Linked DNA regions of Homo sapiens. The protein of the gene in region 7 purifies or fractionates together with the protein of the main gene of each other region. This does not show direct contact. Each region holds a gene or a part of one and is shown on either strand. Other genes may lie near its edges. The genes, in order: LAD1, HMGA2, ETFB, NDUFA5, CALD1, IDH2 and TMIGD1.

Region 1 (4,188 bases), on a different chromosome or scaffold from region 7:
TGGGGGCACCAGTCGCTATTGGGCCACCTCTCCAGGGCCTGGCACACATTAGAGGCATGATACCCAATGATTGAGTGAATGACCCAGTGAACAGAAGAACCAAGAATAAACACCAGGACAAAGCAAGACGAGATTTCCCCAATCCACATAGTTTGTACTATTGGGAGAGTGGCAGGGCAGGGAGCAGTAGGAGAGCCTTGCTGCTCTCTGTTCCTCCCCTCCCCTCCTAGACAAGTCTCCTAGGTGAGGCCAGGAACTGATGAAGGCAGGTGTGGACCTCCCTGCAGCCCAGGGCCAGCCCTGCCTGTCCGGTCTTCATGCAGCCCTGGCCTTGCCCACTAGGTGGGGCTGCTCATGCTTACTGGCACCTACCCCCCAGGTTACTAACCTGTTCTCCTCTGCTGAATACAACCTTGTTTGTTCAGGGCCACCCATGGGAATCCAAAGCTCCTCTCTATCCAGGGGACCTTCCTACCTAACCTACGGCTCCTATGTTGTAATGGATGCGGGCTTCCTCCACTTGCCCTCCAGTGGCTCGCAGACCAGGGTGCCCAGGGCTCTCACCCGAAAGGAGATGGTCCTGGGGCTGGAGCGTTTGAGGGAGCTGCTGTAGGTTCGCTGTGTGGGTGAGGACATATCTGCCTCTTCCTCCTTGCTGGGGATTTTCACCTGGATGGAGCAGGGGGAGTGTCACATAAGAGGTCTAGGGCCCATCAAGCCGGGGCAGCCATAAACCCCATGGCTCACCCCAGGAGCTGCAGGAAGAGGGGAGAATGAGACAGCCCTGTGCCTTCTCTCCTGCCTCCTTCATCTGCTGTGGGAGTGGCTCACAGACAAAGTCCCTTGGGGCCAGGGCACCAGGCAGAGCTTTCCAGGGGAGCTTCTAGAAGGATCTGAGGCTCCCCACTAGTCTGCCGGGGTCCTGGAGCCCAGGCCCTGGATGAGGATATGGTGGGGGGCACCAGATGCTCCCTGCCCCACAGCTGGTGCCCCTTTAAGCTCCAGCAGCCTGCCCCATCTCAGCCTCCCTGCTCTGACCATGGCTAGAAGCAGGCAGGGAAAGAAGAGACTTCCAAGGCCAGCCTGCAGGTAGGAGGATGGAGGCAGCCAGGGAACCAGGGACTACCTGGGTGGGACTGGCCGGCAGTGCCAGCCAGGTGGCAGAGTAGAAGGGTGGGAGGGACGGGACACTGCCAACCTGGAGTGTGACGGGTGGGAGGCGGGAGGCCACAGTCGGAGGGTCTGAAGCCCCCTGCTTTGCCAAAGAGGGCAGGTTCTTCCCAGGGAGGGCCCTTCCTCTCTGCTCCTTGGTGGTGGCTGGGCTTCCCCCAGAGGCTGGCGGCTCCTGCGCCAGGGGCTGCTCTGAGGCTGTGGCCCTCTTTGGGGCCGGCTTAGCATCTGCAGTTGGGCTCTTCTCTGAGGCCAGTGCCTTCTCAAAGATGGAAGCTTTCTCAGACACCAGCCTCCTTCCTGAGCCCAGTGCCATCCCTGGGGCCAGCGACTTCTCAGAGACACTGGTTTTTTCTAGAACAGACTTCTTCTCTGAGCTGTTTCTTTTCTCTGACACTGCTATCTTCTCTGATAGAGATGTCTTCTCTGAGGCCAGCACCTTCTCAGAGATGGAGGTTTTATCGGAGACCAGGCTCTTTTCAGGTGCCGTCTTCTTTGGCATGGAGGACTTCTCCAAGACTGGGGACTTTTCTGGAACCCCTTTCTTCCTCTCTTCTGGCTCCCTGCCCACCAAGCTCTCCTCCTCCAGGGCCCAGGGGCCCCGCTGTTCCCGACTCAGTCTCCGGCGAGGTGGGATTTCCAGTTCCTTCTTGGAGACTAGGGGTTTCTGTGTGGCCTGCACAGGGCTCAAGCTGTTCCTCCCCTCCTCTGCCTCCAGCCTCTCCTGGATGGGGGCCTGTGCAGCCTCCACCACCTGCCGCCTCTGCCTCCGCTCCTGCCGTGTTCTGAGGATGCTCTGGATGTCCTCGTCCTCATCTTTGGAGGCTGGGGGCAGTGGCTTGGGCACCTCTGCTTCTTCCACGCTCGGTAGTCTGAATCAGAAGATGGGAGACAGAATCAGAGGATAGAGGTGGAAGATACCCTAAGTATACCTAACCCAATGGAGATGCTGCCAGGGCCACCAAGGAGGAGGTGAGGATGTCAGGCCCTGGCCTCCCCGGCTCACCACCACCTTTATCCACTCGATATATTGCACTTCCAAGGTATCATCTGAGCAAAGCACACTATGCTTTTTAAAAAGCTTATAAATTCCTATGAAGTCCAACGACTCCATGTTCAGACGTAGTCAACAGACTCTGAATAACTGCTTTAATATGTGCCAGAGCCTGCTTGGGGCATTGGGGATCAAAAGGAATAAGCACAGTCTCTGCCCCTTAGATCTTAGATCAAGACTAGAGATGTCCAGGGATTTTGTCAAGGTCACACAGCTGATTCGTGGGGGAGCTGGGAGCAGAACCTAAGTCTTCCGATGCACCATTCCACACTCCTGTCAGTCTTGTGGGTGCAGCCAAGACTAGGTGACAGCCACAGGTACTGGTGCAGCCCAGCTCTGGACATCCTCCAGAGTCTGCTGCCGGGCAAGGCTGGGGGAGGGGAGGACAGGAGAGGAGAGGGTCATCACAGCCCTGTTCTCCCTTCTTGGGGGACCCAAAGAAACAAAAGTAACATGAGAGGATTGTCCATAACCCACAGCACCTGGCCTCCAGCAAAAGGAGATTATTTTCCTTCCTCATCACCCTGCTCTCCATGTGCTTTCAGGCAAGTTAACTTACTGTCGGAGCCTCAGTTTTCACATCTACAAACTGGGCTTGTTAGGAAGCAAAATGAGACTCATGAGGGTGCCCAGGACAGTCCTGGCATGTAGGTGGCATTCAGTAAACCCCAGGCTCTTCCCCCACCTCATAATCCCAAAATCTAGATGGCAAAACTAGCCCCAAGGTTCTTCTCCTCAGAAGTAAATTATAGGCCGGTGCAGCGGCTCACACCTGTAATCCCAGCACTGGGAAGTTGAGGCTGGTGGATCACCTGAGGTCAGGAGTTCAAGATCAGCCTGCCCAACATGGTGAAACCCCATCTCTCCTAAAAATACAAAAATTATCCGGGCATGGTGGCAGGTGCCTTTAATCTCAGCTACTCGGGAGGCTGAGGCAAAATAGCTTGAACCTGGGAGGCGGAGGTTGCAGTGAGCCAAGATTGCGCCACTGCACTCCAGCCGGGGTGACAGAGCAAGACTCCATCTCAAAAAAAAAAAAGGCAGCTGGGCACGGTGGCTCATGCCTGTATTCCCAGCACTTTGGGAGGCCAAGGCAGGTGGATCATGAGGTCAACAGATCGAGACCATCCTGGCCAACATGGTAAAACCCCATTTCTACTAAAAATACAAAAATTAGCTGGCTGTGGTGGTGGGTGCCTGTAGTCCCAGCTACTCAGGAGGCTGAGGCAGAAGAATTGCTTGAACCTAGGAGGCGGAGCTTGCAGTGAGCTGAGATCGCGCCACTGCACTCCAGCCTAGCGACACAGCGAGACTTCGTCTCAAAAAAAAAAAAAAAAAGAAGTAAATTATAGAGGGTCAGGGTTAGAAGAAGGCAGCCTGGATAATGGAAGGAGGCGGGAGCTTGACAGATCTGGATGGACATTCTGGCCCTGCCACTCTTGAGGTACGTGACCTCAGCAAGTCACCTAAGTACTTTTCAACCCTGTTACTCCACCTGTAAAATGGGTTAACAATACCTCTCTCTCAGGGACATTGTGTGGATTACGTGAGCTATGGCCATAAAATGTCCAGCACAGTATTGGCTCATGGATGGTCTACAAATAGTAGCAAGCATTGTTATGAAGAGGATGGAAGCTGGCAGGACTGAGTCTGGGGAAGGTGGGGAACTGGAAATTCATCATCACACCCTTCAGCCTCATTTCCTGGGCCCCAACTCCCTGAGCAGACTGAATATGCTGCACTTAGTCTGAGGCAACCAGTCCATCCCCATCCATCAGGATAGAAACCTGAGCACCTACCTCTCAGAAGCAGAGGCCTGCCGGTCTCCATTCTGGCTGAGCCTGGGAGCCTCATCGTCCGTGGTGGAGCTCAGGTTGCGGTGCCGCCGCCTGCGCTCGCGCTCCTGTTCCTCCTCATCCTCCAGAGTCCTCTGCCGGGCAAGGCTGGGGGAGGGGAGGAGAGGG
Region 2 (4,188 bases), on a different chromosome or scaffold from region 7:
CCTAAACTAAAGGAGATTATAACTTCTTTCTCTCTAACCATCTGGGAACTGTAAAAATGCAAAGATTTCCATCCACCACAACCAGGAAAGCAAAGCAAAGCAAAACAAAACAAAAAAGGAAGTTAAGACATAACTGGTCATAGGTGTACCTCAGACTAAAAAATAAATAAAAGGGTAAAGATATGCTCACACAGACGTATACACACATGGACAAATGAATTATTCAGGAAAACTTTAACTTCTGATTTCTTTTATTCAGGTAACTATATGAAACTGATTCAGGGACAAATTTTGAGCACTCAGATTGGAGTTCTGAGGAATGACTAGAATCATTACACAATGGTCATGCATAGTAATTAGTTTTAATGGAATATTAAGTAGATTGAAGAATAATTATCTTCTCTTCCAAAAGTTCCAAGCATAGGAAATTGTGTTCTTATAAATGTCTTTGTTTTACATATTATATAAATCAATTTTCTACTGAATATGGTTTGAAATTGAAGTGATGGCTAATTTAGTAGTCATTCACTTGGTCTTGCAACATTCTGCATGCATTGTCCAGTTTCACACTGTTAATTTTCAAATCAACAGCTTTGTTTTCAAATGTCCCAAGGCCAATTACTGAATCCAAATATAAACTTTGTAAGTCAAGAAACTCCAAGCAGCAAGAAATTTTAAGTATATAACCATCAGGATTTCAGTGTGCATTGCAGCTCCTCTAATTTTAGGCTTCTTTCTTCTCATATACTTACCAGTCTTTGCAATGTATTTTGCATTGTGATGGGTCTCAGTTTACAGGAAAACACTCACTTTGTTACTCATAGAAGACTTCTCATATCTATTCTGGTCAGTCTCACAGGGTATGTTTATCTTACATGTTATGAACAATATAACTTTTTCTAAAAAGATTTGCATTGCAAAATCCTGACGAACATATATGTTTTGTTAGAACACAATATATGCTTAATAAACAAATGTTTGAAAATCATATTTATATAGAATAGTAACATACTCAACAAATTCTGATTTGAAAGTGAAAATACCTTAAGTTTACACATGCCATGAACGATTCATCAATGTCATTCATTATTTTGCAAGGTATTCTCTTCTCCAGATGAAGCGTAATTTATAAAACTGAAGAAAAATAAGTCATGTTATGGGCAAATGTATTTATTCATTTTTATTACAAGAGGGATTTTTATAACACCATTGTAGGAAATAATTGTGTCTGAAAGAATGAAAGATTCTGGAGAAGGAATCTTTAGAAAAAAGAAAGCCTACTTCTGTTTTGGAAATTGGAATAATGTATGCATACACATGAAGAATTTTCAGAAAGATGAGCGGCGTAGGGGGGTCATTTACAAATGCCTGTCACTAGAGTCACTAAAAATAAATCAACCCTTACTTAGGAATAGATCAACTTTAAAAATTTTGCTTTAGGTGGTAAACTAGGCACTAGCTTCAGCTTCCCTTTTCTCAATACAAATTTTGTTAGTCAGTGGTAAGCTTTTTAAAATGAAGCGGAGGCGATGGGAGCGTTTCTATCTATTCATCCAAAAAACATGAAATATAGTAAAATATGGGAGACAATTCATTTTCCTTTTTAGTATTAAATTTCAAATTACTTATTTATGGTGAAATTTAAAGATTTCTTCCTAGGAGATATTATCATGATGTGTTTTTCAGAGGAATTATACCACAGCTTAAATGCGTGTCAGCTATCTAACAAGATATTCATTTGTGCATCTCCTTAGAATAAAAGTAAATTAGGTAAACTCCACACTTACACAACATAGAAAAACTCCTTGGTAAAATCAGTCCATTTTAGTTAATTTATAAATGAGATAAAATGAAACAAATGTAAAGTATTCATATTAAAAATACCAGATTATATATTGCCATTTTTAAATAACAAGGTTACTTAGAGCTATTTTAAAGTTTATTGATTAAATAAGAAACAATTAAATCTAAACTCTAAGAAGCAATTAAATTTAAATATATTAAAAATATGCTCCTCAACTCTGTTCAAAACTGTTAAAACAGACAAGAACTCAGAGTAACTTCCTAAATAACTTTATATGTACCATTAGTTGCTATGGCAGTTTACATACATTACAGTTAGTACCCACAGTCACAAAGAAAATCACACAAAACATTAATCCCCAAACGATGAGCATATAGTCCTTTCTAACAAATACTGTACATGGAGTACCCAAAACCGGTGAAAAGGTATATCCAAATTTAGTTCTGATTTTTGAAACTTTGTTCTCAATTACTACACAAACCTACAAATACAACGCAGAAACTTTTTTTTCCAATTTATTTATAAAGTCAAAAAAGTGACTGGTACTTCTCTATACATGCATTAACCCTGACATAGTTCCTCTTTGCTAGCTTAAACACAGCCAACCTGAAGTTATCTTAAACTGCAAGTTTAAACTTATTAAGATAAACACTGAATATTACACTTAACTGGGTTCCATTCTGCCCAAAAAGAGATATTAAATGAGCCAAATACTTGTTTTAAAAAGTCTCATTGTCCAATTCAGACATTTCTATGTCACTTGATGAAAAGGCATTTTGAGATTATGATATACTATACTGCAGGTTTATTGTAAAACAAACAGTATACTTTATTATCACAATTAAAGCTGCAAAATTCATGGAATTTTTCCACTATCCCACAACTAGATTTACTTCTAATTATCGTCTATTTGGCAAAGTACTTTAATAGGGGGATTTGGTTTGCAGTAGCCATGTAATAAGCACAAAGTAAATCAATCTTTATCATTTTTCAGAGGAAATTGCAAAAACTTTACCACCAGGCAAAATCTATAGTTTTGATTTGTTTTTAACTATTTACAACTGGTGCAAATATTAATTGTGTCATTTTCATCCCGCCCCCCCCGCAACCCCTTCCTTCCTCACTTCTACCCGTTTTAAGGTTCAAATTATTTGGTGGCTGTTTGTTTAAAAACAACACTGTTAAGTATCTTCATAAACTTTTTATGCTGAGCATCTGCTTACAAAAAAGGTTAACTCGCATCTAACTAATGTTAAATGTAAGAAATGAGTCTTGTGTTACCCAGTTGGGACAAATTCCTGGCTGCGGAGTTAGAATGGGAAAGTTACAGGCAGGCTCCTGTAGTCAGTCATTGATGAAGTTAGGAGAGCTTGACTTGAGAAATCTCACCTTTTGAGCTGCTTTAGAGGGACTCTTGTTTTTGCTGCCTTTGGGTCTTCCCCTGGGTCTCTTAGGAGAGGGCTCACCGGTTGGTTCCTAATTGTGAGGGAAAAAAAAATGCTGTTGTGGCAAGAATGTCTGAAAGAAATTGACCCTGACTCTTTAGCTATATTTTCTGCATGTGCTGCTCAAAAGAGCTGTTGGAACACGTTCAGTTCAAGCATAAATGGATGATGATGGTACAGAGTTTACAGAAAGGGGAAATAACTATACTTTTAATGCAAGGGTTCAAAGAGGAAACTCTATTTTGTATATGAAAACTAGATTCTACTTCAAACCTAAAATGGTAACAAAGACTGAAGAGGCATGTTCTAGAAAGAAAGTCATATACTTTTAAGGTGTAAAGTTTACAGGGCTATGCATTTGGCAACTCATAGGAATAATAGGCATTTTAAACGAACACCACTCTGCATTATACTAGCATTTCAAACAACAGAAATACGAAGCTACCATCACAGATATTTCAACAATCTTCCATATTGAAAAGGTGGCCTTTAATCATCTTTGTATACCTGCCTTCTAGGTGGATTATGATTCAACTGACACATTTTGAGTGAAATACTGGAGCAATTATTCAAGTTCTTCAGTTCAAAATAACTCCATTCCCCCTAAAATTTCCAAATAATTATAGTAAATCTATGGTGGGAGGTTTTGCTTGAATCATCTAGTTAATTGCTTCAATTCTCCACTTCCTTTTGGAGATGCAGGCATGGCCTCCAGTCTAAATTTAAATATCTTTTGATAAAAATAAACATATTTTCTTCAAAACTTTCTTTTGAGAAAACTCTTATGGGGGTGGAGTGGAGAAAACTAAAAGGAGGTAAAAGCGAGGAGGAATGGAGTGTCTGGGAATGAGAAATGGAAGCAATCACTTGGTTTAGCAAAACTTTAAATGGCTCCTATGCCAAGTAGTAAATACTCAAGTGGTTAAGAGAATGCGATGA
Region 3 (4,188 bases), on a different chromosome or scaffold from region 7:
AAATGATGTGCAGAAGCAAATGGGTGGGGTTTGCCACCCACCTCCCTTACCTCCCTTGTCTGTTTAGCAAAGAGGTCTTTCATGCTGGTGTTTTCCAAATTAGGTTGTGACCATGTGTGATCATGACATCCAGGCAGAGGGCTGGCATTTTTCCGAAAAAGGGTAGAAAATGTCAGAGTATGGTGTGTGTGTAGGCAGGGTCAGTATTGGTCACTGACCCTTACACTGCAGTGGCATTTGTGAAATAGGTCAGGGTCACTGGTCACGTTGTCTAAGGTGTTATCCGAGCTCGTTTCACAACCAAGAGAATTAAAGAGCATAGACCACCCAAAAGGTGAGGTTGGAGCGAAAGTTTAATAAGCAAAAGAAGAAAGCTCTCCACAGAGGAGAGGGAAGCCCAAGCGGGTTGCCATTTTTACAGTTGATTCCAAAAGCTTTTTTTTTAAAAAATTATTTATTTATTTATTTTTTATTATTATACTTTAAGTTTTAGGATACATGTGCACAACGTACAGGTTTGTTACATGTGTTTATATGTGCCATGTTGGTGTGCTGCACCCAGTAACTCGTCCTTTAGCATTAGGTATATCTCCTAATGCTATCCCTCCCCCCTCCCCCCACCCCACGACAGTCCCCGGTGTGTGATGTTCCCCTTCCTGTGTCCATGTGTTCTCATTGTTCAATTCCCACCTATGAGTGAGAACATGCGTTGTTTGGTTTTCTGTCCTTGCGATAGTTTGCTGAGAATGATGGTTTCCAGCTTCATCCATGTCCCTACAAAGGACATGAACTCATCATTGTTTATGGCTGCATAGTATTCCATGGTGTATATGTGCCACATTTTCTTAATCCAGTCTATCATTGTTGGACATTTGGGTTGGTTCCAAGTCTTTACTATTGTGAATAGTGCCGCAATAAACATATGTGTGCATGTGTCTTTATAGCAGCATGATTTATAATCCTTTGGGTATATACCCAGTAATAGGATGGCTGGGTCAAATGGTATTTCTAGTTCTAGATCCCTGAGGAATCACCACACCGACTTCCACAATGGTTGAACTAGTTTACAGTCCCACCAACAGTGTAAAAGTGTTCCTTTTTCTCCACATCCTCTCCAGCACCTGTTCTTTCCTGACTTTTTAATGATCGCCGTTCTAACTGGTGTGAGACGGTATCTCATTGTGATTTTGATTTGCATTTCTCTGATGGCCAGTGATGATGAGCATTTTTCATGTGTTTTTTGGCTGCATAAATGTCTTCTTTTGAGAAGTGTCTATTCATATCCTTCGCCCACTTTTTGATGGGGTTGTTTGTTTTTTTCTTGTACATTTGTTTGAGTTCATTGTAGATTCTGGATATTAGCCATTTGTCAGATGAGTAGGCTGCAAAAATTTTCTCCCATTCTGTAGGTTGCCTGTTCACTCTGATGGTTAAACTAAAGAGCTTCTGCACAGCAAAAGACACCAAAAGCTTTTATAAGAAACTCCTTTCATCTCTGTAGCTGTTTGAGTATCTTATCTGTAAAGCTATCTGCATAACTCTCCGTTATCTATGTAGTTGTGGGTACGTCTTTAGGCAAGCACAAAGCTCCGCTTCTCTTGTTTCTGTAACCGTGGGTTTGTTTTAGGTAAGCTCCGCCCCTCCCCGTGCAAGTTCCCACAGAGACCACCATGTACGTGCCTGAAAAGGGGAGGGAACTTTTCCTGGGAGCCTGTCAGTCACGCAAAGAACAAAAGGCTTCTGTGCTGGGCAGCTTGAGTTTTCCCCAGGCTGCTCTATTGTTGCCTGTAGCTGTGATTTTTCAGGCAGGCTGCTCCTCTGAGGACCACCCTTAACTGTCTACCTAACTGGTTTTTCCTTTTCTTCTCCTCATTTGTATTTATGTATCAGTGTATTATGTATTTATATACACTTGGAGATACAGTAAAATGTACCTCTCACTGTGGGTTACCATAAATACTGTAAATTTGAGAAACACTCTTTCAGGCCTGAGAGGAGCAGTGACAACAGTAGGGATGATCAAGTCAGATGTCCCTGGTACCCAGGAATGGCTGGATGAGAGAAGGAGACAGGGTGACCTGCCCCTGCCTACAAACTCTAACCCAGTTCTGTCCCTGGAGCTGTGTGACCCCGGACAAGGCCCTGCCCCTTTCCAGGCTGTCGTTGTCCTCATCCAGCCTGGGAGAGGGTTGGCGCTGAGGCCCCCACCTTCTTGCCTGTTTCCTCCTGACCCCACCCCTTCCCCTCCTGCTGGGCAGATCCGAGTGAAGCCTGACAGGACCGGTGTGGTCACGGATGGTGTGAAGCACTCCATGAACCCCTTCTGTGAGATCGCGGTGGAGGAGGCTGTGCGGCTCAAGGAGAAGAAGCTGGTGAAGGAGGTCATCGCCGTCAGCTGTGGGCCTGCACAGTGCCAGGTGATGAAGGTCTTGGGGAGGGGGCTGGACTCCTGGGTCTGACGGAGGAGGGGCTGGGACCTGGACTCCTGGGTCTGAGGGAGGAGGAGGCTGGAAGTCTGGACCCCTGGGTCTGAGGGAGGATGGGCTGATAGCCTGGATTCCTGGGTCTGAGGAAGAAGGGGATGGGGGCCTGGACTCCTGGGTCTGAGGAAGGAGGGGCTGGGGGCCTGGACTCTTGGGTCTGAGGAAGGAGGGGATGGGGCCCTGGACTCCTGGGTCTGAGGAAGAAGGGGATGGGGGCCTGGATTCCTGGGTCTGAGGAAGGAGGGGATGGGGCCCTGGACTCCTGGGTCTGAGGAAGGAGGGGCTGGGACCTGGACTCCTGGGTCTGAGGGAGGAGGAGGCTGGAAGTCTGGACCCCTGGGTCTGAGGGAGGATGGGCTGATAGCCTGGATTCCTGGGTCTGAGGAAGGAGGGGATGGGGGCCTGGACTCCTGGGTCTGAAGAAGGAGGGGATGGGGGCCCGGACTCCTGGGTCTGAGGAAGGAGGGGATGGGGGCCCGGACTCCTGGGTCTGAGGAAGGAGGGGATGGGGGCCCGGACTCCTGGGTCTGAGGAAGGAGGGGATGGGGGCCCGGACTCCTGGGTCTGAGGAAGGAGGGGATGGGGGCCCGGACTCCTGGGTCTGAGGAAGGAGGGGATGGGGGCCCGGACTCCTGGGTCTGAGGAAGGAGGGGATGGGGGCCTGGACTCCTGGGTCTGAGGAAGGAGGGGATGGGGCCCTGGACTCCTGGGTCTGAGGAAGGAGGGGCTGCGAGCCAGACTCCTAGGTCCCCCTGAGGATAGCAGCCAAGTCAAGCCCCTCTGTCCTTGGCAGGAGACGATTCGTACCGCCCTGGCCATGGGTGCAGACCGAGGTATCCACGTGGAGGTGCCCCCAGCAGAAGCAGAACGCTTGGGTCCCCTGCAGGTGGCTCGGGTCCTGGCCAAGCTGGCAGAGAAGGAGAAGGTGGACCTGGTGCTGCTGGGCAAACAGGTAGCTGTGGTCAGCCCTCCCTGTGCCCCCTTGCTCATCCCTGCTCGGGAGGAGGGTGGTGGAGATACGGGGTGAGACAGCAGCTGGCCAGGCCCAGGGCATTCACCACTCCAGGCTGAGCAGCTTGGGACTTTGCTGACCCTTCTGACAGAGAGTTTGAGCAGGGAGGACAGAGTCCCTCTGGGTGTTAGAAAGATCCTCTTGGGCCAGGCACGGTGGTTTACGCCTGTAATCTCAGCACTTTGGGAGGCCGAGGCCAGTGGATCACTTGAGGTCGAGAGTTTGAGATTAGCGTGGCCAACATGGTGAAACCCCATCTCTTCTAAAAATATAAAAATTAGCCGGGTGTGGTATCACCTGCCTGTAATCCCAGCTACTTGGGAGGCTGAGGCATGAGAATCACTGGAACCTGGGAGGCGGAGGTTGCAGTGATACAAGATCGCACCACTGCACTCCAGGCACCACTGCACTCCTGCCTGGGAGCAGAGCGAGACTCTGTCTCAAAAAGAAAAAAAGAAGAAAGATCCTTTTGGGTGAGTTTAGAGGCTGGGAGGCCGAGGTGATGGTCACATGGGGGAGAATGAGGCCTCAGCCAAAGGTGACAGGACAGAGCAGAGACATGATGTGGCAGGAGAGACTGGGCTTAGCATGGGGAGGGAGGGCAGGGAGGAGGCAAGGACAGTGCCTGGGTCTGCCTTGGTAACACAGGTAGGAAACCCAGGAAGAACAGGAGGTTAGAGGAGGATCCTACAA
Region 4 (4,188 bases), on a different chromosome or scaffold from region 7:
TTTTCTTTCTTTCTTTTTTTTTTTTTTGAAACGGAGTTTCGCTCTTATAGCCCAGGCTGGAGTACAATGGCGTGAACTTGGCTCACTACAACCTCCACCTCCTGGGGTCAAGTGATTCTCCTGCCTCAGCCTCCCAAGTAGCTGGGATTACAGGTACCCGCCACCATACCTGGCTATTTTTTCTATTTTTAGTAGAGACAGGGTTTTGCCATGTTGGCCAGGATGGTCTCAAACTCCTGACTTCAGGTGATCCGCCCACCTCAGCCTCCCAAAGTGCTGGGATTACAGGCGTGAGCCCACCCAGCCTGAATCAGTATTTTTCAAAGTGAGGTCCGAAGCACTGCAAATTTTTTTTTTTAATTTTTCTTATTTGAATTTCTGTAGAAATAAACACATATAATCATTACATCTGTATGATCAAATTTAACTAAATACGGTCATAATACTTCAGTGTTCTTGCTTCTGATTATGAATGAGTTACGACATAAAGTCTGCATAAAAGGCTCAACCGAAAAAGTAGCAAGAGAATTGAGTCAATGCATAGCATGTACTGAAGCACACTGAACTTAAACTTCAGTATAGAAATCAGTAAGAAGTTGATCCTCTCCAATTTAAATATATAATGCATATATTAGTTTTTAATATAGCATTTTAATTAAGTTTTAATATGATCTAAAATTCAGGTTTTAAATTTTCATCTTTCCTGACAAAAATGTATCAGTGTCTAGAGAAATACAGATGAGAACAGGGGACTATTAATATAGAATAAAAGAAAAAATGTTATCAATAGGGTGGACACTTAGTTTATCATCCAAACTTGGACACTTATAACAGTGAAAAGATACCTATTAATCATTACGCCAAAACACAGGTATGAACCAGAACAGTTGAAACAAACAAGACATGATCACTCCAGGAGTAAGTCTCAATAATTACAAGTATACAAACCCTTCTCCTAAAGAGCAACCTTTTTTTTCAATTAAAAAAAAAAAATGTGTGCAGTCCTCACTATTCATAATAGCAAAGACTTGGAACCAACCCAAATGCCCAGTGATAGACTGGATAAAGAAAATATGACACATATACAACATGGAATACTATGCAGCCATAAAAAAGGATGAGCTCATATCCTTTGCAGGGAAATGGATGAAGCTGGAAACCATCATTCTCAGCAAACTAACACAAGAACAGAAAACCAAACATCACATGTTCTCACTCATAAGTGAGAGTTGAACAATGAGAACACATGGACACAGGGAGGGGAACATCACACACTGGGGCCTGTCAGTGGGTGGGGGGCCAGGGGAGGGATAGCATTAGGAGAAATACCTAATGTAGATGACGGGTTGATGGGTGCGGCAAACCACCATGGCACGTGTATACCTATGTAACAAACCTGCACGTTCTGCACATGTACCCCAGAACTTAAAGTATAACTAAAAAAAAAAAAAAAAAAAAAAAATTGTGTGCAGTCCTAATAAGGGAACAGGGTAAAGCAAAAATAAAAAAGCAGATAAGCTAGAAGTCCACCTTTCTTCATGGTCCAGGACACACAGTCCTCCTCCACAAATAACTCACAATCTTCCTGTGCCCAGCTATCATCAGACCCTCGCCTGATAGCTCATTGCAACCTAGGTGTTATCAGTACTGCACAAAGCTCTCTTCAGCCCACAGCACAAGCACCATCCTTTAAGATCCCCAGCAAGCCTTTGCTACTTGCATTCAGCTCCTCTTTTGCTGACTTGCCAATAGCTTTCTTGCAATGTATTTTCATACTTTCTCTAATAAATCTGCCTTTCTTTACCTCAAATGTCTTGGTAAATTATTTTTACCACCACGCAACACCAGCCCCAGACAGTCGCTACCCGCGAAAAAATATACTCAGTACTTCCATGTACAATACCACACTGTTTGCGTATAAAGATAGACTGGACATGGATCACACTCCAATATGTTTAAGGTACTATCGAGTGTACTTATCTGTTCTCATGCTGCTAATAGAGACATACCTGAGACTGGGTGATTTATAAAGGAAAAGAAGTTTAATGAACTTACAGTTCCACATGGCTGGAGAGGCCTCACAATCATGGCAGAAGATGAAAGAGGGGCAAAGGCTTGTCTTACATGGCAGGAAGCAAGAGAGCATGTGCAGGGGACCTGCCCTTTATAAAACCATCAGATCTCACGAGACTTCTTCACTATCACAAGAACAGCATGGGAAAAACCCACCCCATGATTCAATTACCTCCCACCAGGTTCCTCTCCCACGACACATGGGGATTATGGGAGCTACAATTCAAGATGAGATTTGGATGGGGACAGAGCTAAACCATATCACAGGGTAAGCTACAGAAGAGGAAAAATAATAAAAATGATAAAAAGAAAAAATAAGTGTGTGTTTGGCAGGGATGGGGAAATACATAGAGCAAAGAGATATTATAATACTTAGCAACGGTTAAGGGTGTGCTAACCAGAACATAACTGCTTGAGTTTACACTGGCTCCACTCCTTAGGTGCACTGGACAAGTTATTTCCATCTCTGTGCCTTCATCCCTCATCTGTAAGATGGGAATAATACTGCCTCATAGGGTATATACAACTTAGAACAGTACCTGGTACACATTAAGTTTCACTAAGTATTAGCATTATTTTTCTATAGCAGAAGAAGAATTCACTTCAGCTGAGACCAGAGAAGCATTCATATTTCAAAAAGGTGGCATCTAAGATAGACCCAGAGGGATGGTAGATCATAGAAACTTAAATGATATTGGAAAAGGCAATTACATACAGAATACATAGAACTGAATGGCAGAAAATACAGCAAACATAAGGAAGTGGTATATAGTTCTATTTTCTTGAACTGTGCTGTCTAAAACAGTAGATGCTAGCTAAATATGGCTACTGAGCATTTGATATGTGGCTAGTCCAAACTGAGATGTGTTATAAGTATAAATACATACCAGAGTTGGAAAATTTAGTATGAAGAAAAACACTATAAAATACCATTAATTTTTTTATTATATACTGAAATGGCAATATTTTAGATTTGTTAGGGTAAATAAAATAATTAAATTTTACCTTTTTCTTCATTAAAAAATTAGTCCTAGAAAATTTTAAATTACATACAAATATGGCTTACATTTAAGGCTCGCATTATGTTTTTAATGGCCAGCACTTGGTTAGAATACAGTAGCTCCCCTTTACCCATCCGTGGTTTCATTTTCCAAGGTTTCAGTTACTAATAGTCAACCTCAGTCAGAAAATATTAAATGAAAAATTCCAGAAATAAACAATTTATAAGTTTTAAACTATGTGCCGTTCAAAGTAGTGTGGTGAAATCTCACACTATCCCACTCTATCCTTTCTTCATCACAAGAGGGTGGTACAGTACAGTAAGATATTTTGAGACAAAGAGACCACATTCACATAACTTTTATTACAGTATATTGTTATAATTGTTCTATTTTATTAGTTGTTATCTCTTTTTTTTTTTTTTCTTTTTTGAGACAGGGTCTCACTCCATCACCCAGGCTAGAGTGTAATGGCATCATCACAGCTCACTGCAGCCTCAACCTCTGGGGCTCAAGCAATCCTGCTGCCTCTGCCTCCCGAGTAGCTGGGACTAGGTGCACACCACCACACCTGATTAATTTCCACATTTTTTGTAGAGACGGGGTTTTGCCATGTTGGCCAGGCTGGTCTTAAACTCCTGGGCTAAAGCAATCCACCCGCCTCAGCCTCCCAAAGTGCTGGGATTACAGGCGTGAGCCAGCACGTCCAGCCTGCTTATCTCTTATTGTGCCTAATTCATAAATTAAACTTTATTATAGGTATGTATGAAACAAAACATAGCATATATACAGTTTGGTACTATATGTGGTTTTCAGACATCCACTGGGGATTTTGGAATATACTGCTGTACAGGACACATAAGGAAATGCATAGGAGATAAAGTTAGAGAAAATGTCACATTATAAGTGGTTCTGCATTCCAAGTTAAAGCATTCGGGCTTTATTCTGTGGACAATTAAAAGATTTAGGAAAATCATATGATTAGATTAGGAAAATTAGCTTCATTGTAGTGAGTTAAAAGGACTGAAGGAGAAACAAGGCAGAAAGGCCAGTAAGGAGGTTGTTGCAATTCTCTAAACAAGAACAAGGACCTGAACTATGGTAGTAACAATAGAAA
Region 5 (4,188 bases), on a different chromosome or scaffold from region 7:
TTCGCTCTCGGTCTCCCCGCGACGACGACGAAGCTCCTCCAGCCTTTTGCCGGCTTCCACCTGGGGGGCGCCCTCAGCCTCCTTGGTGTCCACGCTGGCCCTCCCTCCAGGGCGGCTGTGGTTGGGGGGCAATGGAAAGGGGTTTACATGCTTTTGCCTGTAGTCTCCCTGGAGGAAGGGGAGGTCGGTCTGCGGCTTCTGCATCCCCGACTAAATACCCACTGCCTCTCATTAGCCCAGGGGGTAGGCTGGGGAAGGGGTCTGCCCGGAATCACAGAGTCCAGGAGCCTCTGCTCTTCCACTTGTGCTTCGTTTCCTCAGCTGTAAAATGGGACAAATATGCACTGTAAAATGGGATTGTAAAGTTGTGCAGCTGCTATGGAAACAGTATGGAGGTTCCTCAAAAAATCAACAAGAGAACTACCACGTGATCCAGCAATCCCACTTCTGATACACTTCTAAAAGAATGGAAAGCAAGGTCTTGAAGAGACATTTGTATACCCGTGTTCATAGCAGCATTATTTACAAGGACCAAGAGATGGACGCAACCCAAGTGTCCATCATAGCAGGAATGGATAAATAAAAGGTGGTCTAGCCATACCATGGAATATTATTCAGCCTTAAAAAGGAAGGAGAGGCCGGGTGCAGTGGCTCACGCCTGTAATCCTAGCACTTTGGGAGGCCGAGGCGGGCGGATTGCCTGAGCTCAGGAGTTTAAGACAGCCTGGGCAACACAGTGAAACCCTGTCTCTACTAAAATACAAAAAAAAAAAAATTAGCCGGGCGTGGCGGCGTGTGCCTGTGGTCCCAGCTACTCTGGAGGCTGAGGCAGGAGAATTGCTTGAGCCCAGGAGGCAGGGGTTGCAGTGAGCCGAGATTGTGCCACTGCACTCCAGCCTGGGCAACAAAGCGAGACTCTGTCTGTAAGAAAAAAAGAGAAAAAAAAAAAAAAGGAAGGAGATCTTGTTACCTGTTACAACATGGATAAACCTTGAAGATACTATGCTAAGTGAAATAAGCCAATCACGGAAATCATACAAATATTGTGTGATTCCACTTATATGAGGGATCTAAAGTAGTCAAATTCATAGAGACAGAAATAGAACTGTAGTTACCAGAGGCAGAGGGTGGGCGGTAGCAGGAAATAAAGAGTTGCTGTTTAATGGGTGTAGTCTTTCAGTCTTGCAAGATGAAAAGAGTTTTGGAGATCTGTTGCACAACAATATGAATATGCCTCACACTACTTAACTGTACTTTTAAAAATGCTTAAGATGGTAAATTTTAGGTGATGTTTGTTTTTACCACAATTTTTAAGAAGATACATGCTACAACATGGAAAAATGGGTAAATACTATTTATTCTATTTACCTCAGTGGGTTGCATGGGCTTATGTATTATATCAGTATGATATCATACTGATATCATACTGATATACTATAATTTCTATATCATCTACAGTATAAATATTAGTTGTTATTAGAAAGGGAGGCATGTAGTCCAAAAGGTTACTTGTGAATGAGTTCAAAAGTCTTGTAGTGGCCTTACTAGTCCTTTCCCGTAAGTTACTGGTTAACTTGGGTCTGCCTGGAGTAATGGATCAGGAGGGAAGACAGAAAGGTTCAGGCGCTGGGAATGGGAAAAAGTGGCTGTAACTAAGGGTAGGCATTGAAGTAAATCCATCTGTCCACAACTGTGCCTTGAGCTTGACTCTAGCAGCTGATCTCTGGCAGACGAAATTACCCATTGCCTCTTGATTAAGAGCTAAACACAGTGATTTATGTCTATTCTTACAGAGCTGCTCCAGGAAAGTCCTTAATGACTGCATTAACCTATGGCTTCAATTTGTGAATTTTCTATGCTCTTTGACCCCAATACAACTGGAATACTCCTTATACAGACTTAAAATTATGAAATTAGCTTGGTATGATGTGGTTAAGGTTATTACTTACATGTCATTCTTTATGCTCTCTAAACCCTTTTCATATCCACTACTTCATTTAACAGTCACAATAACTGGGAAGATGTCAGGTTAGGTTTATTATCCCCATCTTACAAACAAGGAAACCACAGGTAAGACAGAGAATAATATACTCAAACTTTTGGAAGCTAGAAAGCAGTCGAGCCATGATCAGATTCTAATGCTTATCTATTAGTTGTACTCTTCTTGTAACTATAATTATACCTGAAATTAAATACGTTTTGTTATGAAACAATGAATAAACTGAAATAGAACATGTTATTCCATCTCTCCACCTCTTACCTCAAACCTTCAGGATAGAGTCTGAGAGAAGCGTTTCCTACCTCTGTCTCTAGAGTTTCTACAGTCTAGGTCTAGCTACCTTCCGTGCCTGAGATGAAGCAGAAGCTTCATCAGGTAGAACAGCTTATAAAACAGGAAGAAATGGGTACGTTTTTATGTAAGTAAGAACTAAAATTGAAATTATGTTGAATTTTCTTTTGTGATTAAGGAGGATACACAGGGATTTCATTGCAGAATTGGGAACATATTAAGACTTCAGACAGAATGCTATCCCAAGAGTCCTTATGGTAAAATTTTATTTTGGAACTGGTATTTTTAGTATTTTACACAACTATAAAAAGATGAAGACATATCATTAGCACCTACTGTGACCCCTGAGTTTCTTTAATAAATTTACTGTATGATACAGTTAGAACACTGATAATTTTAAAACATGTCGATACTCAAAGTAGAACTTCAGTAGAATGCAGAGTTTTCACTAACACAGAGTTCACCTAAGTTGGATTTGCCTGGGACTTCACTAAGCAGAATTTAGTGGCTTAATTTAGGCTTGAAGCCCTTGTTATAAGTAGTCTTTAAGAGACAGAGATACAGCTTTGCCATTTAAATACTTATTAGCAAGTAGTAAGGTCATTCTTAACTAGATGTCAACGTAGATATCCTATTCCTGACACTTTTGTCTAAGGAACAAAGGAATTATCACACCCTAACATCATTTACTACATGTAAAGAATGGTACAGTGTTTCTAGCTGTGAAACAAGAGGAAGAATAAAACAAGAAATGGGCTCAAGAAATACACTGTGCAATATTGATTTTATAATATATATATGTATATTATATATCATGCTTTTTAAACACTGAAGTAGTTCTGAATATCCTGTGTCCTCCAGAACAATAATTTTCAAGCTGCAGACCAGAAAATCAATTTAGTAGATTGTAATCAACATTTAAAAAAAAAAAAAACAGAAAATATCAGAGTGCACTGCATAGAGCAAAACAAAGTACCATTTCTTGACACACTTGTTTCAGTTATAAAAATATATACAGGTGTGTACTGGGTCATTATGTAAAATTTATTTCTTACTAAGGGCTTAGGTTAAAAAATTTAGAACTATTGGTCTAGGCTCATGCCAGTTACAGGTAAACTTTTATTTTGAACTCAAACAAGGTTAAAGGGTCCCTCAAAACCTTGCTGTCAAAGGCTCTTTCAGGGTCTTCTAGGTTCACAGGCCTGTGACTCCTCTCTCAGTCAATTTAGGGTCTTTCCTTCCAAAAATGAGTTTGCTCTCTCTTTGTGTTCATCATATTACTGTACAGGAACTGGACCGGCAAAACACATGCCTATAGAAACATCTATGGATTCCACTAGGTGTCACTCAGTCTTCATTTTGGACAATCAAAATGTCCGTCATTAGGGACTGGCTAAATAAGTCCTAATACATCCATCCAGTAGAATCTAATATCATTAATTATAGGCTTATATTTATTGGCATAGAAAGCAAGCTATGACACATTCTTATGCACAGTGCAAGAATCAATGTAAAATTATAAGTATACTCACACACGTATATACTACATATAAATATACACACGTGTGTGCATTTATCTTGAATATTATATACATAGATAAATATCTGGAAAAAGTGTTACTGCTAGTTATCTTTGGGTGGTGGGTGCTTATTTTTATTCTTCTATTTTCTGAGCGTTTTTATAATGAGTATTTTTTTCTATAATCGGAAAAAATCTTTTAATTTCTACCTTCAAAAATAAAAAATCAAAAAACCATTTTGCACTTTCTATAAAACCCTTGGTATAATTTGCATCGCTATATCTTGCTCATTGAATTGAGATTTTTATGTCATGTTTTAGAGAAAACGAGTTACAAGAAAATGCAGATATCAAAGGGAACAGTAATTAAATCACACAT
Region 6 (4,188 bases), on a different chromosome or scaffold from region 7:
CCTTCTGGTGCTCCCGATAGTGGCGGGTGACGGTCCCATGAGCGGCCTCAGCCTCAATCGTCTTCCCATCAGGGCAGACCAGGACGGACGTCATCAGGCCAAGGGAGCCAAAGCCTGGAGGGTAGAAAGCCTTTCTCTCAGGGCCTCGCCTCTCCTGGGGCCACCCAGCTGAGCCCTGCTGCCCTCTACAACCCAATATTGTAGCTGCCATAGTTCGTGGCTCTACTCAGCCTCCCCCAGCTGCAACTGGGAGGACAGGGACTGTTCCAGGTCTCTTCACCCTCCTGTGGGTCTCCAGGGCCCAGCACAGGGCTGGAGGGCACTGGAGGGTGGCTATCACCAGCACATTAACATCCATCTGTGTCACCAGCTCCAGGCGCCCCACAGCCTGTGGCCCACAGGGCCCAAGAGGCCACAGAGTCCTGTGGTCCCCCACAGCCTGCCACCCAGCCTGGCTCGTGACCCGGAGGCACATTCAAGGAAAACAATAAAGCTGTGGTCAGCTATTTCCCAACAATCACTTTTGCAGCTACTCTCTTAGGCCACTTTCAAGCTTTTTGATTAATTTCTGAATGCTCCCAAATCCACATGTCAACTCCAGCAAGCTTTTCTATTGTCAAGGACTCCAGGGCTTCAAAGGCACCCCCATGACACCAAAATAAGGATTGAAGAAAGAAAACATGGACAACATCTACAGGAAAATGCTTTGTCTATGAATTCTAAGAATTTTGGCTGTAAGCAATCCCTTCTCCATTTTACCTGCACCTTCACACCATTCCTTAGACACTTAAGGTTCATTTTCATGCCTCTGCCTCATCTGCTATGGCGTTTCATCCTTCTATCCTAGATGGGAATTGTTCGGTGAGAGGATCCCCACTGAACTTTCCAAAGTAAAGCCAAAGGTTTACACAAAGTAACAAGACTCTGCTTTTCATCAGAACCCGTCCTGGGCTTCCCTTTTCCCCATACCAGGAGCTGCCCTGGTAAGCTTAGGTTTCTCTTTCACTCTCTATGTCCTGCCTGTTTCCCACACCTACCACCTTTCCTGCTCTTGTTCCCAACACAATTGGCCCATTTCTCGCTGTTCTTCTCTAATGGTCTCACCTATACTTTATTTTTTATTTTTTATTTTTTTTGGAGACGGAGTTTCACCCTTGTTGCCCAGGCTGGAGTGCAATGGCGCAATCTCGGCTCACTGCAACCTCCACCTCCTGGGTTCAAGAGATTCTCCTGCCTCAGCCTCTCAAGTAGCTGGGATTACAGGTGTCCATGACTGTGCCCGCCTCCATGCCCAGCTAAATTTTTTTGCATTTTTAGTAGAGACGGGGTTTCGTCATGTTGGCCACGCTGGTCTCAAACTCCTGACCTCATCACCTATACTTTTTACTGCAATCTGATTTGTCTTTTAGGACACCCTAGGGCTTGGGGGTTTGCAGGCTTCCCCAACATTCTCTTCCATCCATTAGGTTCACTATGCAAAATGCATTCGCTGTAGTTTAAAGAACCTCCAGTCCCGCTTGATCCCATTTTCCTACTGGAACCAAAGAGTCATGAGGCTCCATCATGGACTGGAGCAACCTTAGGGCTGTCAACCTAGCCCTGGAATTCCTGTGCCCTCCTTTCTCTCTAAGAGCAGCCTCAGTCATACACCAGTCCAAACCTAATTTGTGATCCTCTCTCACTCAGATGCCAGGGAGCTCCTGCCCCCTGCTGTCCACAGAGGACCCTGCAATGAGTCCTGCTCCACTAGAGTTTTCTACCAAAAGGGTCTGAAAATCCCTCCAGCCAGAGAAGACCAACAGTCCACCCCCACAGGGAGCAGCGTCCTCCCAGCGTACCCTGGGCCAGGATGTCTGACTGCACATCTCCGTCATAGTTCTTGCAGGCCCACACAAAGCCACCCGAAGACTTGAGGACCTGAGCCACCATGTCATCAATGAGCCGGTGCTCATACCAGATCTTATTCTTGTCGAAGTCGGTCTTATAGTGCCTGGGAGTAAAAAGGTCTGTTATGGGGAGAGGGCAGAAGGCTGACAGGTTGGGGATCCCTCCCTGAGCCTCGGAGCTGAGCCAAATGCACTCTAATAGCGACCTTCCCAGGGTAGGATGGGAACAGCATGGGGGGAAGGGAAGAAAGGCCACAGAGTACATGGATGAGGCTTTACTTGTCAAAGATCTCCTGGAAGATGTCCTTGAAACGCCCATCGTAGGCTTTCAGTATGGTGTTCTTGGTGCTCATGTACAGCGGCCATTTCTTCTGGATGGCATACTGGAAGCAGCTGTGCGCAAAACCTGAGATGGACTGCAGGGGGAGAGACAGGGCCCTGGCGTGGTGCCCTAGCCTGGCGATTGCCGGCAACCTCCCACCTCCCAGGGCAAGGCCCAGCTCTCCAGGAACGGTACCCCGCCGCCCACGCGACTGTTTAACACCAGCCTCCGTGCAGTGCACACGATGTTTCTGCTGGCCCAGCCTCTCCCTCTCAACTTTGCTTTGTAAAACACCGCCTTTTTTTTTTTTTTGGAAAACACCGCCTTTTTTTTTTTTTTTTTGGAAACAACTTTTTTTTGGAAAGCACCGCCTTAGACTACATGTGGCTGGGGCAGGGCTAATTCCCAGGCCTAGCGCTGGGGTTGACAGTGTGTCCCTGGCTTATCCAATCAGAAGCCTTTCTCCCCAGGGCCTCTGTGATTGGCTCAGAGGTGGTCATGTGACTCAGCCTGGCATTGGAGCTGGAACTGGGGATAAAGAGGCATTCTCTTCTGATAGGGTAGCCAAGCAGGCAGGAGTACGCCTGGAGCTGCTCGTGGCCATTTCTTTTCTTTTCTTTTCTTTTCTTTTTGTTTCAAGAGATGGGGTCTCACTGTTGCCCAGGCTGGTCTCAAACTTCTGGTCTCAAGCAATCCTGCCTTGGCCTCCCAAAATGCCGGGATTACAAGTGTCAGCCACCATGCCCAGCCCTGGTGGCCATTTCTGCCTCTTTGTGGCCTAAGAATGAGGCCATTACAGAAGAAAGGAAAGCCACGAGACAGAGATGAAGAGACAAGCTGGGAGAGGAGGGGCCCAGGATGCCCAAGCCAGCCTCACCTCGTCGGTGTTGTACATGCCCATGCCCACGCCGCCTGCGGGGAAGTTGTACACTTCCCACTCCTTGACACCACTGCCATCTTTTGGGGTGAAGACCATTTTGAAAGTGCCGGCCCGGTCTGCCACAAAGTCTGTGGCCTTGTACTGCAGAGACAAGAGGATGGCTAGGCGAGGAGCTCCAGTCGGGGGGTGCCCAGGTCAGTGGATCCCCTCTCCACCCTGGCCTACCTGGTCGCCATGGGCGTGCCTGCCAATGGTGATGGGCTTGGTCCAGCCAGGGACTAGGCGTGGGATGTTTTTGCAGATGATGGGCTCCCGGAAGACAGTCCCCCCCAGGATGTTCCGGATAGTTCCATTGGGACTTTTCCACATCTTCTTCAGCTTGAACTCTGTGAGGACAGAGATAATAGTGGTCCCACTGCAGCCGCCATCTTTCAACCAGAATTTGAACCCCAAGCAACAACACAGCCAGACGGGGGTCCTAAAATTCTTCATGAGGAAGGCAGTAGAGTCTAGAGTGCAAATGTGTGGGCTCTGGAGTCTGCCAATTTTTTTTTTTTTTTTTTTTTTTTTGAGACAGAGTTTTGCTCCTATTGCCCAGGCTGGAGTGCAATGGCGCGATCTCGGCTCACCACAACCTCTGCCTCCTGGGTTCAAGCGGTTCTCCTGCCTCAGCCTCCCGAGCAGCTGGAATTACAGGCATGTGACACCACACCAAGCTAATTTTGTATTTTTAGGAGAGATGGGGTTTCTCCATGTTGGTCAGGCTGGTCTCGACCTCCCAACCTCAGGTGATCCACCCGCCTCGGCTTCCCAAAGTGCTGGGATTACAGGTGTGAGCCACCATGCCCAGCAAGTCTGCCAGTTTTAATGGTGAGGCTTACAAAAGTGGCTCAACCAAAGCTGTAAAAAAAAATTACTGGAAAAATAACCAGCCTAAGTGTTGTCGTGAGGACGAAATGAGCTCGTGTGTAAAGGGCCTAGAACGGTGCCCGGTCCATGCTAAGTGCTCTGTTGGCCATTATGATTCCCACATCACACATGGAGGGAGTACAGTCCGGGGGAAGGACTTGTCTGACGAAGCCTGACAACACACTGCCCAC
Region 7 (4,888 bases):
GGTATGCTGCACAGAATACAACTTGTCCAAAGCTCCAGGGATATAGTTGCTCACGGTAGTAATCTTTAACACATTCTTTACTAGTTTCCTCCCTTCCCTATCTTACTTCCTTACTATGCTTCCTGAGATCACTTTTTTTTTTTTTTTTTTTTGAGGAAGGGTCTCACTCTCTCGCCCAGATTGGAATGCAGTGGTCCAATCTTGGCTCAACACAACCTCCACCTCCCAGCCTCAAGGGATTCTTCCACCTCAGCCTCCCAAGTAGCTGGGATTACAGGCGCCCGCCACCATGCCTGGCTAATTTTTCTATTTTTAGTAGAGACGGGGTTTCATCACATTGGCCAGGCTGGTCTCGAACTCCTGACCTCAAATGATCCACCCTCCTCGGCCTCCCAAAGTGCTGGGATTAAGGGAGTGAGCCACTCACCGTGCCCGGCCGAGATCACCTTTAAATAAACTATTGGCACTCAAAGCTCTGTCTCAGGGTCTATTTTGGAGGCACCAAGAACCAAAACATCACTCCATTGCTAAATTCATTTTAAAATGACAATCTTGGATCCCTGGAGAGGCAAACTCAAAACCTGTTTGGGTGGTGCTTGCAACCCAGCCAACAGGAGCTGCTCTTAGCTCTGATTTTTGCTTGAACAATGCTATAGTGAGGTTGTGTTGATTTAGGATGCCCTGCTCAGCCTATATTAATAATAATAGTAATAAGAGCTACTGTTTACCAAGAGCTTACTGTGCGGCAGATTCACATGCTTCATTTCATTTAATCCTCACAGTGACTCCGTAGGGAGGGTACTATTACTATTTCCATTGTATTGATGAAGATCCTGAGGCTCATGGAGGTTAAATAACTTTTCAAAGTTACATAGCTAGTAAGAGGCAGATTGCTGGTGTGCTTCAGCAGTGTGTTAAAATGTGTAGATAACTATAAATATTCTTCTGTTATATTTTTGTGTAAATGGGAACAATAGTACTTGGCAGATAAAATTTGCATCGTTAACAATACCATAAACATAGTGTAATGCAAGGATCTCCCAATCAGGTGAGAGCCTCAAGAGGATAAAACTGTTCCCTAGGCCAAGGTGGGCAGATTGCTTAAGGCCGGGAGTTAGAGACCAGCCTAGGAAACATGGCGAAATTTCATCTCTACCAAAAATATATATATTAACAAAGTTTAGCTGGGCATGGTGACTCACGCCAGTAGTCCTAGCTCCTTGGGAGGCTGGGAGCAGAGGTTCAGTCAGCCACAATTGTGCCATTGCATTCCAATCTGGGTGACAGAGTGAAACCCTGCCTCAAAAAACAAAACAAACAACAACAACAAAAAAACGGCTCCCTGCCATGCCTGGCTTGGTACAGCTTATGCACTGGGCTTGGGTTACTAGTGGTAACTAAGACTTTTCCAGCATTATTTAAGTTGTGTAGAATCTTCCAATGTTTTGACCTCTGTTAAAGTCAAACTTCTCTTTGGACTCGTCCCTTCACAATCCCCAGGCTAGATGATCAAAACGCAGCCATCTTACTTAAATATGACAATATTCAGTGAGATGCGCTACAGATTTTTGCACAAGTTCAAGCTTTCTTGGAACAACACATCCCTGTTAGTAATATCCGGCCCCACCTAGTAACCGAGGTAGACATAGAAACTTAGATCTTAAGAAGATGTCTTTCCCAATTACTATCTTCTCTAAGACTCCATAAAGAAAAACAGACTTTGAACCCAAGTTATCTTATTTATTTGACCCTGCTGTCATAAAGCGTTCAAATTCAAGTATTATAAAGGATTGTAACAGGGAAAGCATTTAGGGTTTTCAGGCAGAGGAACAGTTGGCCAAGGAAGTCAGCTTCTCAGAGCTCAAGAGGTAAGTGGTAAGACTGTCTTATATAGAAAGTAGAGAGTCATACAGATTAAAAACAAGCCAAGTGAGGGGAATACATTTTGAAAAGTTGCTGTCTCGGTGGAGTGGAGGGAAAGAGAAGACATAGATTTGTCCCCTTAATAGGGCTGGGTGAGGTCTGGCAAGAAGCCTGCACTCTCAGTTTTTATTGAGTACTTGTAGTGCAGAGCGCTTGAGAAAACTCTACTATTGACCACATTCTGCAGTAATCACTGTTACAACACTGTGATAGAAATCTTTTTGGCAAATATTTAAAATTACAAAAGAATCAATATTAGTAGTAATTGCATCTTACGAAAAGATTGATGCAGGCTTGTCTGCCAGAAAGGGTGAGCCTGGCATGAATGAAACTTACTCCTGTCAGGGCACGCCTGGGACAGGGGAGGAGTAGAGTAGGTATAGGTATATTTCAGCTCTTGTAAATTAATACTGGTGTTAAGGGGAGAGAACTCCCAGTGGCCAGGGACTGGAAAAGATTAACAGCAGCTTTTTTTTATTTTTTTATTTTTTATTTTTATTTTTTGAGACCGAGCCTCACTCTGTCGCCCAGGCTGGAGTGCAGTGGCATAATCTTGGCTCACTGCAACCTCCACCTCCCAGGTTCAAGCAATTCTCCTGCCTCAGCCTCCCGAGTAGCTGGGATTACAGGCGCTCGCCACCATGCCTGGCTAATTTTTTTTTTTTTTTTTTGCATTTTTAGTAGAGATGGGGTTTCACTATGTTGGTCAGGCTAGTCTCAAACTCCTGACCTCAGGTAATCCACCTGCCTCAGCTCCTAAAGTGCTGGGATTACAGGCATGAGCCACTGCACCCAGCCTAACAGCAGCTTCTTAAAGGAAAAGAATATTAATCTAGGCAGTAGATTGGGTAGTAGGGTGGTTGAGAGTAGGGTGGTTAAGAGCATGGTCTTGGGAGTCTGGGTTCAAATCCCGACCTTGACATTTACTGTCTGTGGGATCTCAGGCAAATTACATAGTCTCTTTAAATCTATAGAAACGACCTCAGGAGGGTTGTTAGGAGGCTTAATTGTGACTGAAATGATGTATGTAAAGTGTTTAGCACAGTCCCTGTTGCGCAGAAAGTTTTCCGTATGTGGTTCGCTATATTTATAGTAGTACTCTTGAAAGGAAGTAATGAATATATGTTTTTTTCCCAGATGGAAATGGAGAATATCTTAGGGAGAGGGAGAGTTGAAGCAAAAGCAAGAAGGGAGAAAGGACACCTTTATTATTTATTATTTTTAGTCCATTGGGTCAAGGGGAAGAGAGAGAGAGAATAGTGGGAGAAAGACAAGATTAACATGGTTTAAACTAGAGGCCATGTTTCAATTGAGGCTTTTCTACGTACACACCATTTGAATCTATGGGATTTGGAGTAGTCTCAAAAACTCTCTATTATCAGAGAACATCTTTACAAAAATGACCCAAGAAAAACTTTCAGAACAAGAATTACTTTGTTCAGTAGGGACTGTCTGAGAATGAGACAAGTTTCATTCTGCTAAAATGAAATTCTATCAGTTTCTCTAGGGAAGACTGGTTTCATCTTCCCCAGGGCACCCTGACGCTGCTCTATCTGTCATAGCCTATTTCCTGTGGTTTTATGTTGCTTTTAAAAAAAATTTCTTACTACTAAATGTACTTTGAACTTAGTCAGACAGGGTTGTTTAATTAAAAGCTAGAAGTAGTACCGTTATAGCTGGGATGATTCATCTGGGACTTCACTTTAAATGCATAATAGACAGAAGGAAGGTTCACGAACTCATTGCAGACCAAAGTACAAAACCAACTGCACTATTTTTCCCTTAGTAGATCTGAGTTTAACTCATTAAAGATGGCATGGAAGAGCAGTGTCATAATGCAAATGGGAAGATTTCTTCTCTTAGTAATTTTATTTCTGCCACGTGAGATGACAAGTAAGTTAAAGTTCTTTTTGGCCTCTTTTTAGATAAAGAAAAATTTCCGATTAAGAAAAGTGATCAATGGGCATTGGATATATCCTTAAATTCCAAATTGGAATGACTACACAGTTAGCATGGCTCACAGTACAGGAGTCAACTAACAATAAAAAATCAAATGGAGGCCAGGCGGGTGGCTCACGCCTGTAATCCCAACACTTTGGGAGGCCGAGGCAGGTGAATCATGAGGTCAGGAGATCGAGACCATCCTGGCTAACACGGTGAAACCCCATCTCTACTAAAAATACAAAAAATTAGCCTGGTGTGCTGGCAGGCGCCTGTAGTTCCAGCTACTCGGGTGGCTGAGGCAGGAGAATGGCGTGAACCCAGGAGGTGGAGCTTGCAGTGAGTGAGCCGAGATTACGTCACTGTACTCCAGCCTGGGCGACAGGGCGAGACTCCGTCTCAAAAAAAAAAAAAAAAAAATCAAATGGAAAAATATTGTTTTTAGGGTTTTATTATTACAAGACAAGGTGAAGTATTCTATTCTCTCCAGAGCCACCACCAGAATCCTCCTACATTTTAATGCATTTTATTACTAATGTTACCCCAAATAATCATCTGTTTATCTGAACATACCATTTCACATGAAAATCTTTCCAGCATTTGCTCTCCTACCACTCTTTTCTGATTTTAAAAGTAATGCATAGTCATTGTAAAATAAATCAGGCAATCTATAAAAAAAAAAAGAAAAGTACAAATCCCCCCAAATACTTTCATCCAGAGATGACAACCACTCAATATTCCATATTTTAATAAAATACTAGACAACAATACCATTATCTTTACAAGTAGCTTAAGTTTTTTGCTTTTTTGAGAAGAAGTCTCACTTTGTTGCCCAGGCTGGAGTGCAGTGGTGTGATCTTGGCTCACTGCAACCTTCATCTCCCAGGTTCAAGTGATTCTCCTGCCTCAGCCTCCCGAGTAGCTGGGATTACAGGAGCCCGCCACCATGCCTGGCTAATTTTTTTGTATTTTTAGTAGAGACAGGGTTTCACTATGTTGGCCAGGCTGGTCTCAAACTTTTGAC

The links.
Region 1: the proteins of TMIGD1 (region 7) and LAD1 purify together in Homo sapiens (co-immunoprecipitation; one study listed by IntAct). This does not show direct contact.
Region 2: the proteins of TMIGD1 (region 7) and HMGA2 purify together in Homo sapiens (co-immunoprecipitation; one study listed by IntAct). This does not show direct contact.
Region 3: the proteins of TMIGD1 (region 7) and ETFB purify together in Homo sapiens (co-immunoprecipitation; one study listed by IntAct). This does not show direct contact.
Region 4: the proteins of TMIGD1 (region 7) and NDUFA5 purify together in Homo sapiens (co-immunoprecipitation; one study listed by IntAct). This does not show direct contact.
Region 5: the proteins of TMIGD1 (region 7) and CALD1 purify together in Homo sapiens (co-immunoprecipitation; one study listed by IntAct). This does not show direct contact.
Region 6: the proteins of TMIGD1 (region 7) and IDH2 purify together in Homo sapiens (co-immunoprecipitation; one study listed by IntAct). This does not show direct contact.

What each region holds. Positions count from the first base shown.
Region 1 is NC_000001.11:201,385,137-201,389,324, forward strand, and holds part of LAD1 (ladinin-1), read right to left. Parts: intron 4,168-4,188; coding exon 4,024-4,167; intron 2,043-4,023; coding exon 1,199-2,042; intron 670-1,198; coding exon 565-669; intron 1-564. UniProt on the Homo sapiens protein: Anchoring filament protein which is a component of the basement membrane zone.
Region 2 is NC_000012.12:65,827,093-65,831,280, reverse strand, and holds part of HMGA2 (high mobility group protein HMGI-C), read right to left. Parts: intron 3,281-4,188; coding exon 3,194-3,280; intron 1-3,193.
Region 3 is NC_000019.10:51,352,379-51,356,566, reverse strand, and holds part of ETFB (electron transfer flavoprotein subunit beta), read left to right. Parts: intron 1-1,724; exon of another isoform or gene 1,725-1,928; coding exon of another isoform or gene 1,929-2,258; coding exon 2,259-2,417; intron 2,418-3,276; coding exon 3,277-3,435; intron 3,436-4,188. UniProt on the Homo sapiens protein: Heterodimeric electron transfer flavoprotein that accepts electrons from several mitochondrial dehydrogenases, including acyl-CoA dehydrogenases, glutaryl-CoA and sarcosine dehydrogenase.
Region 4 is NC_000007.14:123,551,199-123,555,386, forward strand, and holds part of NDUFA5 (NADH dehydrogenase [ubiquinone] 1 alpha subcomplex subunit 5), read right to left. Parts: exon of another isoform or gene 170-4,188; intron 1-169. UniProt on the Homo sapiens protein: Accessory subunit of the mitochondrial membrane respiratory chain NADH dehydrogenase (Complex I), that is believed not to be involved in catalysis. Complex I functions in the transfer of electrons from NADH to the respiratory chain.
Region 5 is NC_000007.14:134,943,435-134,947,622, reverse strand, and holds part of CALD1 (caldesmon), read right to left. Parts: intron 116-4,188; coding exon 1-115. UniProt on the Homo sapiens protein: Actin- and myosin-binding protein implicated in the regulation of actomyosin interactions in smooth muscle and nonmuscle cells (could act as a bridge between myosin and actin filaments).
Region 6 is NC_000015.10:90,085,274-90,089,461, forward strand, and holds part of IDH2 (isocitrate dehydrogenase [NADP], mitochondrial isoform 1 precursor), read right to left. Parts: intron 3,475-4,188; coding exon 3,314-3,474; intron 3,230-3,313; coding exon 3,086-3,229; intron 2,303-3,085; coding exon 2,166-2,302; intron 1,991-2,165; coding exon 1,839-1,990; intron 115-1,838; coding exon 2-114; intron 1-1. UniProt on the Homo sapiens protein: Plays a role in intermediary metabolism and energy production. It may tightly associate or interact with the pyruvate dehydrogenase complex.
Region 7 is NC_000017.11:30,330,980-30,335,867, reverse strand, and holds the start of TMIGD1 (transmembrane and immunoglobulin domain-containing protein 1 isoform 1 precursor), read left to right. Parts: upstream 1-1,810; 5' UTR 1,811-1,868; intron 1,869-3,709; 5' UTR 3,710-3,734; coding exon 3,735-3,816; intron 3,817-4,888. UniProt on the Homo sapiens protein: May control cell-cell adhesion, cell migration and proliferation, cell morphology, and protects renal epithelial cells from oxidative cell injury to promote cell survival.